2 linked regions of the Homo sapiens genome follow. The protein of the gene in region 2 interacts with the protein of the main gene of each other region in a pairwise test. Each region holds a gene or a part of one and is shown on either strand. Other genes may lie near its edges. The genes, in order: PEDS1-UBE2V1 and SLC30A4.

What was found.
Region 1: the proteins of SLC30A4 (region 2) and PEDS1-UBE2V1 interact in a two-hybrid assay, tested with the Homo sapiens proteins (one large-scale study listed by BioGRID).

The regions. Positions count from the first base shown.
Region 1 is NC_000020.11:50,126,156-50,129,973, forward strand, and holds part of PEDS1-UBE2V1 (TMEM189-UBE2V1 fusion protein), read right to left. Parts: intron 3,536-3,818; coding exon 3,391-3,535; intron 2,033-3,390; coding exon 1,820-2,032; intron 1-1,819. Other genes in the region: PEDS1 (plasmanylethanolamine desaturase 1), read right to left, coding at 1,820-2,032, 3,391-3,535.
Region 2 is NC_000015.10:45,509,245-45,513,062, reverse strand, and holds part of SLC30A4 (probable proton-coupled zinc antiporter SLC30A4), read left to right. Parts: intron 1-1,778; coding exon 1,779-1,925; exon of another isoform or gene 1,926-1,927; intron 1,928-3,818. UniProt on the Homo sapiens protein: Probable proton-coupled zinc ion antiporter mediating zinc import from cytoplasm potentially into the endocytic compartment. Controls zinc deposition in milk.

The sequences.
Region 1 (3,818 bases), on a different chromosome or scaffold from region 2:
TGTTCTTTCACTGCTGATCCTCAGTGCTTAGAATACAGCCAGGCGCAGAGTAGGTGCTGAATAAATATTGCTCACAATCTTACAGCCTTCCAGCTCACCATGAGGTAGATACTAATATCAGTCCCATTTTCCACATGAGCACACTGAGGCTTAGAGAAGAGTTTCCCAATTAGCAGGTGGCCAAACCAGGATTGGAACTCAGCCCTGCCTAAGTAGTTAACCCATCTCCTAAATAGCCTGAATTCTAATCCCTCCACCTGCCTTCCAAGGAGCACAAATTGAGGACATGAAAAAGAATGTTTTTTTGTGGTTCTCAGTTCTGTTTCCAGAAAGACCTAAAAAAAAATAGTAGCTGTAATTTATCAAGTACCTACTATATGCCAAACACCGCATTTGCCATTCCCACTATGGCCCTAAGAAGGTGATATATGAAGGAGGCGGCTGCAGCCCTATTTTGTAAGGAGAAAAGCGGTCCCCAGGGAGGTTTGTGAGTTGCCTAAAGGCACATGTGGAGAAGCTGAGAGTTAGGCCTGAGTTAGACTTGACAGCACCTGATACACTTAACCTTGAAAGCAGCCCAGCTGGCTCCAGAGAAACTCCCAGTTCACCTCACCTCTTTCGCACTGGCTGCTAACTGAGCATGGCACGTGGGCCTCCTTTCCCTTCCTCCACTGCACTGGGCATGTTCCTGCCTCTGGCCTGCTGCTTCCTGTTACCTTTGCTCTAATCTGTGCTCATCTATCTTCAGGGCCCTCCCACACTTCTCTCCTCCCTCTTCAGTTGCTCTGCCCCCTTCTCTCCTCCCTCTTCCACTGCTCTGCCCGCTTCTCCCTCTTCCATTGCTCTGCCTCAACTCCAGTCAGGAGCCTCTTTGCCATTCCGGAAACACACCAAGCAAGCAAAGGCCAGCCTCAGGGCCTTCGCACCTACTGTTCCTGCTGCCTAGAGTGCCTCCCACAGAGGTCTGCACGGCTTTGTCCCTCAGCTCCTCGGGGTCTTTGTTCAAGTGTCACCTTCCCTGACCACCCGATTTAAGAGGCAAAGCCCCCACTTCCTTCTCCCACCCCTGCTTTATTTTCCTCCATAGCAGTTAGCACCATTAGCCACGCTACACATTTTATTCATTCGTTCCAGCTCCCTCACTAGATGGTGAGTGCCACAAGGGCAAGGATCCGTGTTTTCTGGTTTTTTTTTTTTTTTTTTTTTTTTTGAGACAGTCTCTGTCACCTAGGCTGGAGTGCAGTGGTGCGATTTCAGCTTACTGCAACCTCCACCTCCCAGGTTCAAGCAATTCTCTTGCCTCAGCCTCCCGAGTAGCTGGGATTACAGGTGCCTGCCACCAAGCCCAATTAATTTTTTTTCGTATTTTTAGTAGAGATGGGGTTTCACCATGTTGGCCAGGCTGGTCTCCAACTCCTGACCTCAAGTGATCCACCCGCCTTGGCCTCCCAAAGTGCTGGGATTCCAGGCATGAGCCACTGCGCCCAGCTGATTCATGCTATTTTGTTTGCTGCAGGAGCCTACGCCCAAAGCACCATGGCATGTGGTAGGTGCTCAATAAATACGGGATGATGGGTGGCTGGAATCACAACGCCATGAAGTCGAGGGAGAGGGCTTTGTCAGTCTCATTTACTGTGTCCTCAGCACCTAGAATAGTGCCTGGCACACAGTAGGTGCTCAATAAATGCATGACCTGAGAGACTGTTCCCAGAGGGCAAGGACTGTGTGACCTCCTGCTGTGATCTCTGCCCTCCTGACCTCGAAGATGGTGCAGTGGCTGGGGTGGGGAAAGCCCATTCCACGCCACTGGTGGCCGCACCTGTGGTGATGCAGAAGTAGGTCTCGTGGGGTGAGACGTGGTGGATGCGATGGTGTTTACGTGGCAGGATGACATGCCAGTCCTGCAGGAGGGTGACCCAGCGTGGCAGCCCAAAGTACGTGTGCGACCACTTGTGGATCTGGTTGGTGAAGGTGCCGAAGATGATCAGGCAGAAGACGAAGCACTCCCAGGGGTATAGCTGCTCCAGGGCTTCTGCAGGTTGGGGAGAGGGGGGGCCGGCACAGCTGTCACTCGGGACGGGGAACCCACCCCAAATGGCCCTCACCACCTGCTCCTGGGCGGCTCCTGAGCTGGGCAAGCACCCAGGATTCTCTTCCACCCCCTGCAGGGCCGCAGGCAAGCTCAGGTGCTGCCCTGGGCTTCAGGCTTTCCTCCTGCTCAGGAAGCAGGCGTAATGGTGTAATAGGATAATGGCATAAGCATGGCAATGGCTGGGAATGTAGACCGGAGTCAGCTGGAGCTGGGTTCCGATCTCTGCCGACATTTCTTGGCAGTATGGGCTGGATCGGTGACTCTGCCTCTAAGAAGCTTAATTTCCCCATCAGGAAAATGGGAATGATGCCTTCACCCAGGTTCCCTAGAAGCGGAGCCTGAAACAGGTTCTTGTGCATGTGATTTATCAAGGGAGCCTCTTCAGGAAAAAACCTCGAAGGGAGGGAGGGAAGCAAGACACGGCAGGGGAAGAGCAGAGCAAAGATGGGGTGGGTGGCGTCCTGTCTCAGTCTGTTCCTGCAAGGAGCTCTGAGGTGTTAACGGCTCTTTAGAATTAGACCCACTCAGAGGCAAAGGGACTAGCGTCGGAGGCGTTTCAGTCACTGGCTCCAGCCTTATCCCAAGGAGACAGGTGGGACCTCCCCTCCATCCCTGGAGAAGCTGGGAGCTGTCAGCAGCCACCACTCACAGAAGCAGGGGCTGGGTGCACCCCCAGGGAAGGGGATGGGCAGGGTGCCATAGCACCCACTACACTACACGTCCTCACCACCTCTACCCACCGGAGGCTGCCTGAAGAACAAATGGGTGTTAAGGTGCTGGAACAGGACCGGGCCCCAACCTACCTCCACCTGACAGATAAGGCAACTGAGGCTCAGAGTGGTGAAATCACTTACTTTGGGACCAGTCCCTCTAAAAATAGGCAGGCCCTGTTTTCACAGCCTAGACATTTTCCACTAGGCCACGGTAGCAAAACCCCAGAAGCCCTGCCAGGCAGGTAACACAAATGAACAAGGTGGGTTGGGTGCAGGGAAGCAAGGAATAGTGGGGACGGTGGTAAACTGGAAAGACGCGTCCTGTCAAAGGCAGTGGCTGCAGCTCAGCTCCCACCCAGTGAGGCCAGGTGGGAACATGGACCCAGGGGGGCCAGAGCAGATTGTGCAAGAGAAGCTGGAAACCTCCATCTTCATGTCAGGTTTCCTGATTTTACATGAAGACAATGAATGAAAACTCTTTTAAAATACCATAAGGAGCCAAACACATAAGCCCCAGAAGGCTCCTGGGGGTCGGCCTCTGCCCCCAAGGCCCCCTCCCAGCCCACCACTAGCTGGGTGTCTCACCAGGGCTGTGGGTGCGGAACTTGTAGGCCATGTTTAGCAGCGGCAGCAGTGTCACCAGGCAGTTGTCCCCGTTGGTCTCGATGAAGTCGTGCCGTGTGATAGCTGTCGGGTCAATGTGGTGCTCCCGGAAGGGTCGGATGAAAGCCTGGAGTTGAGGGGGACACAGCCCCAGCAGTCAGCCTAAGGTGGTCAGCTGCTCTCCACAGCCCCCTAAACACATTCACCCTGGGCTCACCTCCCGCCTTTGATCCTAAGTTTCCTCCACCCGGGATGCTTGAACATTCCCACCTGGCCCACTGCCAGACACAGACCCCATCCAGCCTTTGGGGAGATGAGCCGAAATGACCCTGGAAGGGCTTTGGGTTGGCACTGTCTGCCTCTGGGCCTCAGTCTCCCTACCTGTGCTGTAAGGGGGCTTGGAGACAACC
Region 2 (3,818 bases):
CTCCCAAAGTGTTGGGATTACAGGCGTGAGCCACTGCACCTGGCCCCATTTTTCTTTTTTTTTTTTAGTCAATGTCTCACTCTTGTCACCCAAGTTGGAGTGAACTGGTGCCATTATATAAAGCTTACTGCAGCCTCAGACTCTTACACTCAAGCAGTTCTCCCACCTCGGCCTCCCAAACAGCTGGTATTACAGGCATAAGCCACTGTGCCCCAACCTTACTAGCCATTTTTTAAATGCTGAAAAGCCACATGTGACTAGTGGCTACACCATTGGACAGCTCAGATACAGAACATTTCTATCATCTCAAAGTTCTATTGGACAGAATTGCTTTAAGGAATTATCCTCATTATAAAATGATAAGTATGCTAAAGCTCAAAAAAATTAACTCATTCAGACTTTCTGAGATTCCAAAACTTCATGTTGTTTAACACCAACCTTCTCTTGGTGCTTTCCAGCTTTTTCATGCCGGGGAATACATAAAAATGCTATTTGTATAGAGCACTCTGGGGTAAATGGATGTGACTAAAAGATCATCAGCCCCTAGTCTCCTGCTCTTGTCTCTACACACCCAGCTCAGGAATGAGGAGGATCAACAGCTCAGCACACTTACCTGATCATGCAGTTCTGCTGTACATTATAACAGTGATTCTCGAAGTGTGGTTCCAAGACTTGAAGCATCAGCATTACCTGGGAGCATGTTAGCAATATACATTCTCAGGTCCCATCCCCATCACCATCCCAGACCTACCGAATCAGAAATTCTGGGAGTAGAGTTAAGCAGTTTGTAGTTTAACAAGCCCTCCAGGTGATTCTGATACACATAAAAGCTTATTCAGTGAATAGTGCTAGGAAAATTGGTTGTCCATTATGGGACAATACAGACACACAATGAAACAATGTATAATATATATATTAAATGCCTGGAAAATCGATAACAAAAATTGTATCCTAAATACTACCTTTTGTACCCCTCTTCAGAGATGTTGCTAAGTGAATCAGTTAATTTTTACATATTTTATATCGAACTAATGTACATTTTGTAGGTTTTCTCAGTTTAATTTTATGTTCCAACGCCCCTCAACAAGTGAACACCCTTCTTTTCTTCAGCTTTGTTGTAATATTTAGATATGGTTATTAATTCACTAATAGTAGAATTAGTAAGTTAAGCAAAAGCTTCAGTACCAAGACACAAAATCACTATATATTTGCCTTGTGGTTCTTAACTTTCTAAAGGTCATTGACTCCTTGCAGCATGTGTTACTAGAAATGGATATTCTGGCTGGACACATTGGCTTACGCCTATAATCCCAACACTTGCAAGGCCGAGGCGAGTGGATCAGTTGAGGTCAGGAGTTTGAGACCAGCCTGGCCAACATGGTGAAACCCTGTCTCTACTAAAAATACAAAAATTAGCCGGGCGTGGTGGCACGTGCCTGTAGTCCCAGCTACTCGGGAGGCTGAGGCAGAAGAATCACTTGAACCCAGAAGGCAGAGGTTGCAGTGAGCTGAGATTGCACCACTGCACTCCAGCCTGGGCAACAGAGTGAGACTCTGTCTCAAAAAAAAAAGAAAAAAAGAAGTGGATATTCTCACCAGAAAAATGAACCTATATCTAATATTTTGAATGAAATTTCAGAATACCTTGATTTAATTGTAATGGGATAAAGATTTAGTTAGAAGTTCATGTTTTGTAGGATATTGCATATTTCTAGTTTGATTGCTTGCTTTTTTAAAAAATTAACTTGTTCCTTTTTTCTCCTACTTGTAACTCTAAGGTGGATACATTGCAAATAGCCTAGCAATCATGACAGATGCACTTCATATGTTAACTGACCTAAGCGCCATCATACTCACCCTGCTTGCTTTGTGGCTATCATCAAAATCACCAACCAAAAGATTCACCTTTGGATTTCATCGCTTAGGTAGGTAGTTGGTGTTTCTTTTGCTTTATAATATTTTATAGTAAAACCACAATGAACTATAACCCTGATTAACTGAACTCGTTCCAGTGATATCTTGTTTGAACAAAGCAAATGAAAATAGATAAACAAAATTTATTCAGAAACATCTTTTCCAGGGTACATTTAGCCTAGTCAGCTAAACAGTTTACACATATAAAATTATATGATGATCATTAATCTTCAAAGGTTGCTCCCTATGTCCTGAAGATATCATCAGAAAAAAGTTTACTTTCAGTTTATTGAACAAAGCAAAACCACATGGGTTTAACCCGTTAATGAGCATTAGCTTCTCTCTTTTACTTCAGGTATTTCAGCCAAAGCTACCATAGCTTAGATTTTAAGCAGAGCTATCACAGGTATAATGTATGCTGTGTGGCTGAACTTGACTGCAGCCATCGTATCAACATAATTCTGCAAATGCACACATTTTTATTTGCCTGTTTTGAACAAATTTTAATGTTTAATTATAAAGAGTTAAAATCATACATTGCTATCTACACAGCTCTGCTTCTTACTGTATTACTGTTTTTAAATTTTTTGCTTATTTTGAAAATATGTATAAAATAATTACCTGAACTATTATATGAAGTAACATTTACCCAGATGTCAGACTCAAAAGTAGAACCCAAAAGTTGACATTTAAGTAGCTTCAGCAAAACTTGCCTCAAAGAACTAGAGTTAATATCTGATAATTTCATTTTGTAGGAACACTGATGCTCCTGGCTAATATATCAATCAATTCCTCATCATCTTTTTTATTTTTTAGCCTAAAAAAACTTAGACTGTAGATTTTTTGTTTGTTTCTTTACCTATATTTTCTTTGTATTTGTTTTTTGTTTTTTGCTTTTAAGACAGAGTCTTGCTCTGTTGCCCAGGCTGGAGTGCAGTAAACTTTTTGTTTCTTTACGTACATTTTCTTTGAATTTATTTCTCGTTTTTGCTTTTAAGACAGAGTCTTATTCTGTTGCCCAGGCTGGAGTGCAGTGGTGTGATCTTCTTGCACTGTTGCCCAGGCTGGAGTGCAGTGGTGTGATCTTCTTGCGCTGTTGCCCAGGCTGGAGTGCAGTGGTGTGATCTCAGCTCACTACAACCTCCACCTTCCAGGCTCAAGTGATCCTTCCACCTCAGCCTCCCGAGTAGCTGGGACTATAGGCGTGCACTAGCATGCTCAGCTAATTTTTGTGATTTTTGTAGAGACAGGGCCTACCTACAAGGGGGTCATCCTTTGCCCAGGCTGATGTCAAACTCCTGTGCTCAAGCCATCCTCCTACCTTGGCCTCCCAGAGTGCTGGGATTACAGGTGTGAGCTGCCATGACTGGCCCACAGCATCCAGGACCTCTTACTTAGTGACTGGGTCTTCTGGTGCAAAACTTGACACTGTACCTAAATGGTGATATTCCAAGTAGCTATCCAGGTCATCAGGTTGGAAAATTATCTAGCATCCCCACCCCTCCGTACTCTCAGCTACTGTACAAAAGAGCTAAAGCCCCAAGTGAAGTTTTTCTTTTGTTAAGCTACTGCATAATGCATGTGAATGTGTTCCTGGCCAGGCACGGTGGCTCACGTCTGTAATCCCAGCACTTTGGGAGGCCGAGGTGGGCGGATCACCTGAGATCAGGAGTTCAAGACCAGCCTAGCCAACATGGTGAAACCCCATATCTACTAAAAATACAGAAATTAGCTGGGCATGGTGGTGCACGCCTGTAATCCCAGCTACTCAGGAAGCTGAGGCAGAAGAACTGCTTGAACCCGGGAGGCGGAGGTTGTAGTGAGCCTAGATCATGCTGCTGCACTCCATTCTGGGCGGCAGAGTAAGACTCTTGTCTCTCTCAAAAAAAAAAAAAAAAAAGAAT